Linked DNA regions of Homo sapiens. The protein of the gene in region 3 purifies or fractionates together with the protein of the main gene of each other region. This does not show direct contact. Each region holds a gene or a part of one and is shown on either strand. Other genes may lie near its edges. The genes, in order: KIDINS220, URB2 and DGCR2.

Evidence for each region.
Region 1: the proteins of DGCR2 (region 3) and KIDINS220 purify together in Homo sapiens (co-immunoprecipitation; 2 studies listed by BioGRID and IntAct, with this or other methods). This does not show direct contact.
Region 2: the proteins of DGCR2 (region 3) and URB2 purify together in Homo sapiens (co-immunoprecipitation; 2 studies listed by BioGRID and IntAct, with this or other methods). This does not show direct contact.

What each region holds. Positions count from the first base shown.
Region 1 is NC_000002.12:8,732,896-8,736,644, forward strand, and holds part of KIDINS220 (kinase D-interacting substrate of 220 kDa), read right to left. Parts: intron 1,859-3,749; coding exon 1,760-1,858; intron 786-1,759; coding exon 549-785; intron 1-548. UniProt on the Homo sapiens protein: Promotes a prolonged MAP-kinase signaling by neurotrophins through activation of a Rap1-dependent mechanism. Provides a docking site for the CRKL-C3G complex, resulting in Rap1-dependent sustained ERK activation.
Region 2 is NC_000001.11:229,636,193-229,639,941, reverse strand, and holds part of URB2 (unhealthy ribosome biogenesis protein 2 homolog), read right to left. Parts: coding exon 1,695-3,749; intron 1-1,694. UniProt on the Homo sapiens protein: Essential for hematopietic stem cell development through the regulation of p53/TP53 pathway.
Region 3 is NC_000022.11:19,115,803-19,119,551, forward strand, and holds part of DGCR2 (integral membrane protein DGCR2/IDD isoform 1 precursor), read right to left. Parts: intron 1-3,749. UniProt on the Homo sapiens protein: Putative adhesion receptor, that could be involved in cell-cell or cell-matrix interactions required for normal cell differentiation and migration.

The DNA.
Region 1 (3,749 bases), on a different chromosome or scaffold from region 3:
CTTTGCTCTGTCCCTGCCCCTACCCCTACCCCTCACCTGGCCTCCTTCTTCTAAGAATCTCCAAAGGAAGAACGCGCCTACATCTAATGCCAGACCAGAAGAAACCAATATCCGTGAAGGGTGTGCAGGCGTCCTGGAAAACCAAAGGATGGTGCTCAAAGGGACACTATGTGGCCAGTGTTCCAATGAAGATGTACTTCAACCAACAGTTACTGAATGCAACAGGAAGATCGCCTGAGAAAGGCTGAATTTGCTGACCACCCTAGCTCAAGTGGCCTAATCCCTATTGACTCTGCATGCTGTGACCCTGATGGATATCTCAGCTCTCATCAATGTCTACATGAGCTACTTTTTTGTTTGTTTCACTGACTGCCCCTCTCCACATGGATGCAGCTCCTTGAGTACAGGGAGCCCTCCATCTTGTCTCCTGTTCACTTAGGTATTCAGTAAGCATTTTCTGAATGACTGTCTAAATGCCCATATAATCTCAGTGAACTGAACGGTGTGCTTATTCTTCAATAATATGAAAAATGCCATTCAATAAATACCTGCCAACTTAGATTACTGTGACGAGGGGCACCTTCATCCAGGCCAAGCGTGTTCAGCTCTTCGAAGCTGAAGTTGAGTGTGTAGGGCGTCTGGCTGGAGAGCTCGGTGTGAGGCAGCTCGTTGTGGGAAGCGCGGCGAGCAGGCTCACCGTGCGGGGCTGGGCCACTGCTGCTCTCACTGAGGAAACGTGGGTCTTCAGGGACCACGTGGCTTTCTGCGTTTCTCATTTCTAGTACCTTAACAGAAGAAAAACATAAATATTTACACTAACAAATCATATTTTAGAAGCTTTAGAAATATTTAGAAATACCAAACATTATAAAGCTATTGCAACAGCAATGAGAAAGCATACTTCTGGTAAGTGAATTTCTAGTGAATTTGTTTTATACATCAGCTTATCTTTCATGTTCATTAATACTAAAGGAAGCAATGGTAGAAACCACCATACATATACTACACTGCAATTTGTCCATTAAATTATTACTTCTGTTTAAAACTTAACTTGAGGACAAAGAAAAATGCAGCTGGCTTGTGTCAAAACCAGAGCTGGCCAGGAGTAGGGCGGTAGGTCCAGATTTTATTCAGAACTATGGCAACAGGGGTAAGCAGTCTCACTACAGAAGGGAGTCCAACTCGGAATAAGCACGAATGAGTGGGGATCTACCACCAAGGGGCAGGGTGGGGGTCGTGGATGGAACATTACTAAGGGGAGGCAGCAGGAGTGGGGGACTCTTGGTACGCCGATGGCCAGGGTGAGCCGACATCACCTGGGGGTGGGGGGGTTAGTGAGGCGTTTGATCAAATACTGAGGGTGATCACACATGTAAACTGACTTAACAGGATTCTTGCTAAACCTGGGCAATGCAAGCCCTATAAGGATGAATGCTGAAGGTCAAGGCCTCGAAGGCTTTGAGGAGCCTGATGAGAGTTAAGGCAGGTGAAAGCATGAAGAACCGGCAGGCGGCCTCTTCCCCAAATCTCTGAGTGAAATGCCCAAAAAGGCAAAGGCTGCCAAGTGCTGCTGTGTGTATTTTCCACAACACAGGATTGCACATAAGTGTAAGAAGCAGTTTTTAAATTTAAAAAAATATGAAAAAAATACCAGTTTAGGCCAGTACTTATTGATACTGGTTTTCTACAATGTTATAAATAATTTTGAATGTTATCATAAAATAATGTTGTAAACATCACAATGTTACAAATATCTTACTGTGCTTCTGAAAAGGTGCCAGTCTCCAAAATTCATATTCATCTCTTTCTTCAGCTCATCAATGTTACACTGAGCTAACACACGGCCATTTATGTTTGCCTGAGTAAAAATTAAAACAATTATGGGTATAAAGACAGAATGTGAAATATTCTGAATTACTAGTGATTGCCAAGTATGCTTATATTTAGTTTTAAATAAGTCTCTAGAGACCAGAAAGGCTGACCAAAAAAAAGGTTATCATCCCATATAATAATACAATAAACAAGCTGAATTTGAACAACATCAGCCACTTCATATTTTCCCAAATGTCTTAGGCATTTTCTGGGACCAACCGAAGAACTAACCCTCCTATTTCCAAAACTACCTATGCTGTCATGAGCAACAACAAAACTGTTAGTTTTTGTTTTCTAATCTTAGAAAATATGAACATGAACACAAGCTGCTGGGAGGGGACAAAGACATCTGTTCTCATAAGCGTGTTGGTCACTAACAACGTTCTAAATGAAGTAGGCCTGGCAAACTTGTTTATCCGTTATATTAGATACAGATATGAAGAATGCCCACCCACTAATTTTCCAGTCTATTAAATTCACAAGGCCCGGCGCGGTGGCTCACGCATGTAATCCCAGAACTTTGGGAGGCTGAGGTGGGTGGATCACCTAAAGTCAGGAGTTCGAGACCAGCCTGGCCAACATGGTGAAATTCCATCTCTATTAAAACTACAAAAATTAGCTGGGAGTGGTGGCACATGCCTGTAGTCCCAGCTACTTGGGAGGCTGAGGCAGGAGGATCGCTTGCACCCAGGAGGCGGGAGGTTGCAGTGAGCCATGGCCACGCCACTGCACTCCAGCCTGGGTGACATAGCAGGACTCCATCTCAAAGAAAAAAAAAATCATAAAAAAGGAAGTTATTACTTTTGGTTCCCTGTAATTCTAGTTTCCCCTAAATGAAACAACAGCATTTTCTTTATTAATAATAGGTAGCTTACTGCTTTTATAAAATGTAAAACCTGACTTTATTAACTGGGGCAAATTTATGAAATAGCTATGTTTATAATCAATAGAATGTTCAGTTTCCAAGTTAATCCTGAAGAAAACAGTATACACAGCAAGTCTGTGACAGAGGTCCTGCTGCAACAATGCCGCGGAGCCCTAAGCACGGAGGAGGCCAGCGGCTCTGAGGGGCTTCAGAAAGCCGGGGTCTAGGAGCAAAGAGCTGAGTGGGGAGAAAACCACTACCCCGATGGGAACAAAATCATCACAAAGGACTCGTGTGGGAGACCCCGCTCTTTCCTGACACCAACCAGCTGCCTGAAGGAGAAAGTGGGGCTTATCCATGGAAAAGCCGGTGTTTGACTCATGCAAACAGGGACTAGCACGAGCCAGCTCTGTAAGGAAACTGACATTATCTGAAACCTTTCTAAAATTGGCTGAGATGAGTAAAATGGTGTCTACATATGCTCATAATTCTTTAAAAAACTTCTCTCAGATGTCATTCTTTCAAGTATATAAATATTAGAGGCTGGTTATTAACGTTCTACTTTATTACACAGTACTCTGATATAAAAAGTATACCTTAGTGAAATACCTACTATAAAGACTTCGTTAAAACCTTCCCCCAAATCTCAGGCATCTCTAGCCAACTTCCTGATAGCTGCTAGAATTGCAATAGGATCTTAGAAGAAAAAAAAACTATGCAAATGCATTAACCTTGCAAACCCAAACCTATGTGGTTTCATCAAATGTGACATGATCCTAAGTCCTACATGACATGAAAATGAGAATTTGGAGAAAATGAGGCAAGTGTGGCTTACTTTGATAATCACTAAATCACACTAACAAATATTACAATTAGAAAAAAATGTAACACAAAGGTTTTCGGTTCCACACTGGAAAGATGAGTTCTGTTTATCCCAATGGGAATCCCTCAGAGCTTTCTCTTTCTCATCAAGGCATTCTTTACTTGTATTACGTCATTTAAAAAAGAACAT
Region 2 (3,749 bases), on a different chromosome or scaffold from region 3:
TCATAATTATATTTTTAACGGCTGCATAGTAACCCATTAACCTTTCACCAGGGGGGCTGTAAAGGTCGACTCTGTGCAGGAAGACATGAGCTCTCTTGCTTCGAGGCTGTGTACGAGGTCCTAGTTTGCTGCTTGGAAGGCTGCCTTCAGACTAAAACACTTTGATGACATTGAAGGTTAGCCTTGGTCCAGTGAGCACTTGCACCTGGCAGCACCCTAATATGGTGGGGGGACAGGGGTGAACTAAGGAAGGCACAGTCCTGTCCTCAAGGAACTGTAAGAGGCTCTTTGGAAATTAAGTGATTTGGCTGGACATGGTGGCTCACGCCTGTAATCCCAGTACTTTGGGAGGCTGAGGTGGGCGGATAATGAGGTCAGGATATCGAGACCATCCTGGCTAACATGGTGAAACCCTGTCTTTACTAAAAAATACAAAAAAATTAGCCGGGCGTGGTGGCGGGTGCCAGTAGTCCCAGTTACTTGGGAGGCTGAGGCAGGAGAATGGCATGAACCCGGGAAGCGGAGCTTGCAGTGAGCTGAGATTGCACCACTGCACTCCATCCTGGTAGACAGAGTGAGACTCCATCTCAAAAAAAAAAAAAAAAGAAATTAAGTGATTTGTACTTTTTTTAATTTATTTTTTTATGAGACAGGATCTCACTGTGTCACCCAGGCTGGAGTACAATGGCAGGATCAAGACTCACTGCAGCACCGACCTCCCTGGGCTCAGGTGATCCTCCCACTTCAACCTCCTGAGTAGCTGGGACTACAGACGCATGCCACCATGCCTGGCCAATTTTTGTATTTTTTGTAGAGATGGGGTTTTGCCATGTTGCCTGGACTCAAGCAATCTGCCCCCTCAGCCTCCCAAAGTGCTGGGATTACTGGCGTGAGCTGCCACGCCTGGCTCTGATTTGTACTTTTTTAAAGTTGGCAGATTTTCATATCTTTTTAAAGTCAATTTATGGCACTGAAAGTCTGATACATAAGAACCTACTAAGGATGCAGGTATCTATGTATCTCATTGCAGCCAGGACAAGTTAAAGGCTAAAAAGCTGAAGAGGAGCAGATTTCAAAACTATAAACGTACACAGAGCAACCTCCAAAATCAGTGAGCAACTGAGGTGCAGAGCAACATACGGAGGAGGCTGCTGTTTGCACAGAAAGCAAGGAAACCGTTGTAGCAGTAATTGCTTATGTACGCCTAGAATGTAAATAGAGGGCATGAAGTCGTGGGTGCTGGGCCTAGAAGGGAGGTCTTCTCACTGTCCACATGTAGTACTTTTTTTTTTTTTTGAGACAGACTCTCGCTCTGTCGCCCAAGCTAGAGTGCAGTGGCGCGATCTTGGCTCACTGCAAGCTCTGCCTCCTGGGTTCACGCCATTCTCCTGCCTCAGCCTCCCGAGTAGCTGGGACTACAGGCGCCTGCCACCACACCCGGCTAATTATTTGTATTTTTTACTAGAGATGGGGTTTCTCCGTGTTAGCCAGGATGGTCTCGATCTCCTGGCCTTGTGATCCGCCCGCCTCGGCCTCCCAAAGTGCTGGGATTACAGGTGTAAGCCACCGCACCCAGCCGCACATGTGGTACCTTTTGAACACATCACGTGTTCACTTATTCCCAGTTCCAAAAAGGGGAGCAGTGGAAACCAGACCTCTATAACACAGAATTAGCTCAAGAGAAAATATCTTACCTGCAAGAACTCTTCTCACAGAATGAAACATGGAGGTAAACACGGAGTCCTTTTTGGGATGCAGTTCTGGGGCCAAAAAGAACAGAGTCAAAAACTGCAAGGCTGCCTGAAAAGACTGATCATGTCCCGCGAGAGCTGGCAACTCCAACAGTATCTGAGAGTAAACACCCTGGTAGAGGGCAACATGGGAGAGCAGCGTCCTGTCGCTTCCTTGGGAAATGTCGGCCCCTCCATCCCTGCAGTGCTGACCCAGGTCGGCTTCCAAGAGCGTGCTGACGGATGAGATGAGGACCGAGGGAAGGCGCCAGCCCCGGGCCCCCGGCACTGAGCAGAGCTGCAGCACAGCTCCTGTCTGCAGCACAACCTGCTGCAGCAGCTCAGACAGTGCTGCTGGGGCCTCTTGGCCCAGCTTCTGCTCTTTGAGGAAAGGTCCCAGGACATGGCACAACCTGGTTAAAGACACCAGAAGGAGCTGCCTGCCCTGGGGGTTCTGATTTTCTAATTGTTTGCTTGAAGCTGCCTCCGTGTATGGTTTGGAACTAGAGAGGAATGCGGTGATTTTTCTAAAATTGAGCACCAAGCTCAGCTTCATTTGGATGAGCATCTGCATTAGCTCCTCTAAGAACGTCCCTATCACTTGGAGGAATTCCAGCCAAGCGGGATCATCCATCTCAATAAGGAACCTACTACTAGCTCTGAACAATGAGGTCAGTACAACCTCAAAAATATCACTACCATACATGATCTTGAACACAGAGCGAGCACTTTTCCCCTTTTGCAAGTAACCAAGAAGTTGGTAGCAAGTCGTCAAGAACTTGAGAGCCAGTGAGGAGGAGCAAGAGCATCCTAGTTTGGTGACGGCCATGGACAGTAACACAAGAAAATAATGCACATGATAGGGTGGCAAGAGGCTGTCCAGCTGTAAGGCAGAAATCACTTCCAAAAGCCCCAGGATGCTTTCCAACTGCTCTCCCTCCAGCTGGATAGGGAAGTCACTCTTGACCAGGGACAGTAAGTTCTGGGCAATTTCTCCTCTAGGTTCTATACCTTCGGGTCCAGCTTTTGCAAATCTGTTTTCCCAATGACCCACAACCATGTGGTCCTTTTCAAAAAGCCAGGGAAGCTGCTGACTGACAAGACCTGAGTCACGCTGGGCACCAGAACACAGAATGCTGGAGCAACTTGTGGTTACGCACGTTAAGAAAGCAGAATGAAGGGACTGCATCTCTGGAAAGAGAGGGCTATGAAGGAAGGCTTTGGATATTTTTTCCAGTGTGATGTATGCCTCTTCATCTATTGAGACTTCCTGGGCTTTGCCCATGGGTAAAGTTCTCAGCAGGACACTGGCCAGGTATCCCACATCATCTGGACACAGATAGGATATTAAAATTGTGAGATTTGACACAATCAAGTGCCAGTGTGCTACAGGGTATGTGAGTCCACTCACCATCCCAACTTGGCCATCCCAGGAAGCCGTCGTTCTCTGATTCAAGCTTTTTCTGCCGGAACCAATAATAAAGGCAGCATCGCACCTCAAACTTTGGATGGCTCCTTCAGACCGGAAACTAGTTTGCATTAAAGTCCTTTTCATTTTCTGCAGGTACAGCTGTTCTAAGCAATATGTACCAAGAGAGCTGAACTGAGCTGTAAACTTCTCTATCTTCTTCCAATGCTGTGTTTTTACACCTGGGAGCAACGAAGGGAGGTTCGAGATCTCCAGAGCAACACCTATAAGGGGCCCAGACATAGAGTGATACTGGCTACAGTTCAAACTGAACATAGCGTCCACCTGGGCCCAAGTGTAAGAGAGCAGGAGCACAGAGTCACTGACCTTCTGCAGCCACAGCTCTGGCTCTGGGCCTGGGGTGTCCGGGAGAAGGGCCAGCAGGGGCTGCACGAGCTCCCTCATCATCCTCTCCATCATGCACTGTGTCCGTCTGACAATGGGCAGAGGCGTGCTGCTGTCCAGGCTCCTCATGTTGAACATGATGCAGTGCAGCAGCAAGCTCAGTGACAGTGATTTCAGGGCCATGTCGGCATCACTCTGCAAATAGG
Region 3 (3,749 bases):
TCTGTGTGGCAGACACTCCTCAGAGCCACTGTACTCTGCCACCTCCTGAGGGAGCTCTCTCCCGACCAATAAGCCCTGTGCACAAACCACCTCACATTTCACATTTCAGTTCAGGGTTCCTGAACTCTATCTGTGATTAACACTAACATTTTGCCTGATGAAGAGTTTGCTTTATGTCAGACACTTTTTAGAATTTTATACTTACCCATTTTAATCCTCACAACATCTCTATAAAGCTCTGTTACGATGTCCATGTTCCAAATGAGGAAACTGAAGAGTGAGCAGTAGAACAGATTGAGCCTAGGCAGTGTGGCTCTAGAGCCCATGCTCTTAAGCCACCATACCCAACTGCCTGCCATGGGCCAGGATGAGAAGGCTTGATCTAATCCCAGCTGCTACTTTTACAGACAGCTCATTTGAGGCAAAACCAGACCTGAGCTTCCCCATCTCCCAGGAGGATGCCCAGAAGGTCCAGGGCATCTGGGTCCACAGGCTATTCACCCTCCAACCTAGACTTGCCCTGCCAAGCCCGCCATGTCCACACTGACAGGACACACAGCTTGGAATGGCAGGATGAGATGGACTGGCTTTGACTAAACTTCCCAGGACAACTGGTAAATCATGTCAGAAACACAAATACAGGTGTTACACAGCTATCACATAATAACCATACCCAAGCCCATGCATCACTCTGCTCAATGAACTGTTGGCCCAAAACTGGTCTCTCGGGATTACCGAGCCCACTCTGCAGACTGGCAGTGAAAGAAAGGAAAGAGGACGGTCATCAAAACCTCAGCACCCAAACATAACAGCACATAAGAGAAAATCTAATAGCATACCAAGGAAAAGACATCTAATCAGTCAAGAGCTATCTACGGGGTCCTTAAATGTTGTCACTGATGCATTCCACTTAGAGTCAAGAAACTACTAAATGCCAATCGGGTCGTCCTTATGCCAACAACCAAGAGAGGCAGAGGAACTCCCTGCCTGTCAAAGGCTCAGGTCCAGCAGGAGAGAGTCAATAACTAGATCACCTGCCATCAGTGTTGAGAGGATGCATGCACTACTAGATCACCTGTCATCACTGCTGAGAGGACATGCACACAACCGGATCACCTGCCACTACTGCTAAGAGGAAACATGCATAATGAGATCACCTCCCATCACCTCCCATCACTGCTAAGAGGACACCTGCACAACCAGATCACCTCCCACCATGGCTAAGAGGACACGTGCACAGCTAGATCACCTGCCCTTACTGCTAAGAGGACACACACAGATCACTCACCTCCCATTACTGCTAAGAGGATCTGTGCGTAACAAGATTACCTGCCGTCACTGCTAGAAGGACACCTGCACAAACAAATCACCGGCCACCGCTGCTAAGAGGATATAATCACTCAGTACTCTGGGAAGTGGGAAGGAAGGGGTGGGGAAAGTGCCCACAAGCTAGCTTGGGAAGTGGAGCAGCGAAGGCGCAGCCTAACACAGCACAAATCTTCCACAACAGCAGTCTTCATTCCTAAACCCAGAACCGCCAACTAAAACAATAACCCTGACATGCAGTGATGCCAGCTTGCCTCCACCTGGGCCAACCTGGGCTTTAACTACAGGGCTTCCTGCACCCATGAGACCTTCCCACGTGACACAGGGCTTGGCACATAGCAGGTGTTAGTGAGAACGATGGGGTGGGGTTAAGTGGGAGCAGCCTCTACTCTCTGCAATGGTTAACATGTACAAGGATAAACGGCCATGGCGCATACAACTTATTCTCAAATGGTTCAGAAAAAAGCAATGTGTGTGAGTACACAGATATGCACATACACATGGAAGATGAGGGATAAGGCAAATAAGGTAAAATGCCAACAGTAGGGAAGCCTCAGCAAAGGATATGCAGGTGTTCTCTGCACTCACTTTACTCTTGCAACTTTTCCGGGAGTTTGAAATTATTTCCAAATAAAAGTTTTCTTTTTGTCAAGAAAAAAAAGGAAAATTCATTAGCTAGTGAAGGTAGAAAGTATATTACATCACTTTCCAACTAAAAAAAATGAACCTGTTAACCCAAAAGCCAAATCTACCAGTGGACAAACTCTACAAAGTGTCACAGTACTGGCTACAGAGGAAAGCACTCCAAACTCAGGAGGATTTGGCAAGGCTAGGTGCAAGCTCACCTCTCCAGCTACTTCTGAACCTCGGTCACTTTTCCTTGTGATGAAAATATGCACTCTCTCCCTATGCACCAAACCCCTGTGCTACTTCACATGAAAGAAAACTCTGGACTCCAGCCGGGGAGAGGTGGCTCACACCTGCAATCCCGTAACTTTGGGAGGCCAAAGCAGGTGGATCACTTGAGCCCAGGAGTTTGAGACCAGCCTACATGGCCAACATGGTGAAACCCCGTCTCTACTAAAAATACAAAATTATCCCAGCATGGTGGCGTGCGCCGTAATCAAAGTTACTCTGGAGGCTGACACAGGAGAATTACTTGAACCCAGGAGGTGGAGGTTACAGTGAGCTGAGATCCCGCAACTGCACTCCAGCCTGGGTGACAGACAGAAACTCCATCGCAAACAAAAAAAAAAAAAAAAAAAAAAAACAACTCTGGACTCCAGAGCCAAGGTGCTGTGTTCACTTCTCAGCTCCCTGAGATGTGATCAGCTCAGCACAGCTGCCTACTGAAAGCAAAAGAGAAAGAACCCTGAGCTAGCAGCCAGCTCCACCTGGGTCTGAACCCACGCTCTGCTGCTCACCAGCTGTGTGACCTTAGACAAGTCACTTGCCTCTCCCAGCTAGCTGTACCAACAATAGAAGGAAGACGACCTTCTAGTCCTCTACCTTACCAAGGGGCCTAGCTGAGCACAGGCCCTGTACAGGACCAACAACCAGCAGGAAGGGACCAGGGTGCACCAGCATTCAGAAGGCAATTTTTTCTCAGCTATGTATGGTGGGTTCAACCTGGATAGAGCTGTGGCTCATGATATAATTTTGTTTCACAATTAAAGCTAGAAAGAAAAACAGTTTTAGAATCAGCAGTCGATGCTGCCTTCTCTACACAGATGGAGAAAGGGCCAATGAGACAGTATCACAATCAGTGGTCCCCAAATCCCCCCACCATCTCGCTGTCAGTTACCTCAGCAGTAGTCTCCAACCGTTCTTCCTCATCACACCCCCAGTGATCATAACACACATCATCAGTGGTCACATGGCCAAACACAGAAGGGATTTGGCAGAGGGTGAGTGGTTCTGTCCCTCAGACTGGAGTATCCACATGGAAAAAGATTCTGCACCCTCACCTAGAGGACCCTGGGACCTAACAGGGGACAGAGGCAGTCTGTGGCTCCACCTGGGGTTAAGGAAGCTGTTCAGAGCATAATATGAGGTACTCCTGTGGCTGGGCTGGAGACACACAGTTGGAGTGCACAGACCCCAGTCACGGGTGCATGATGGGGGGAAGGCCAGACTCCTACGATGAAATCTCATCTCAGCCTTAGCTTCATGAGTGCTCTGGATTTCAGCTTCCCCATCTTTAAATGAGGCTAAAAACAGCATCTAGCAGGGACCTCTTGAGAGTTAACATATGTTAGTGCTTAGAACAGTGTCCGGCACATGACACATCTTAAATCAAGTTCAAATGTGCACTTAAAAAAAAATTGCTGGGCATGGTACCTCAGGCCTGTAATTCCAGCACTTTGGGAGGCCAAGGCAGGTGGCTCACCAGAGGTCAGGAGTTCCAGACCAGCCCGGCCAAC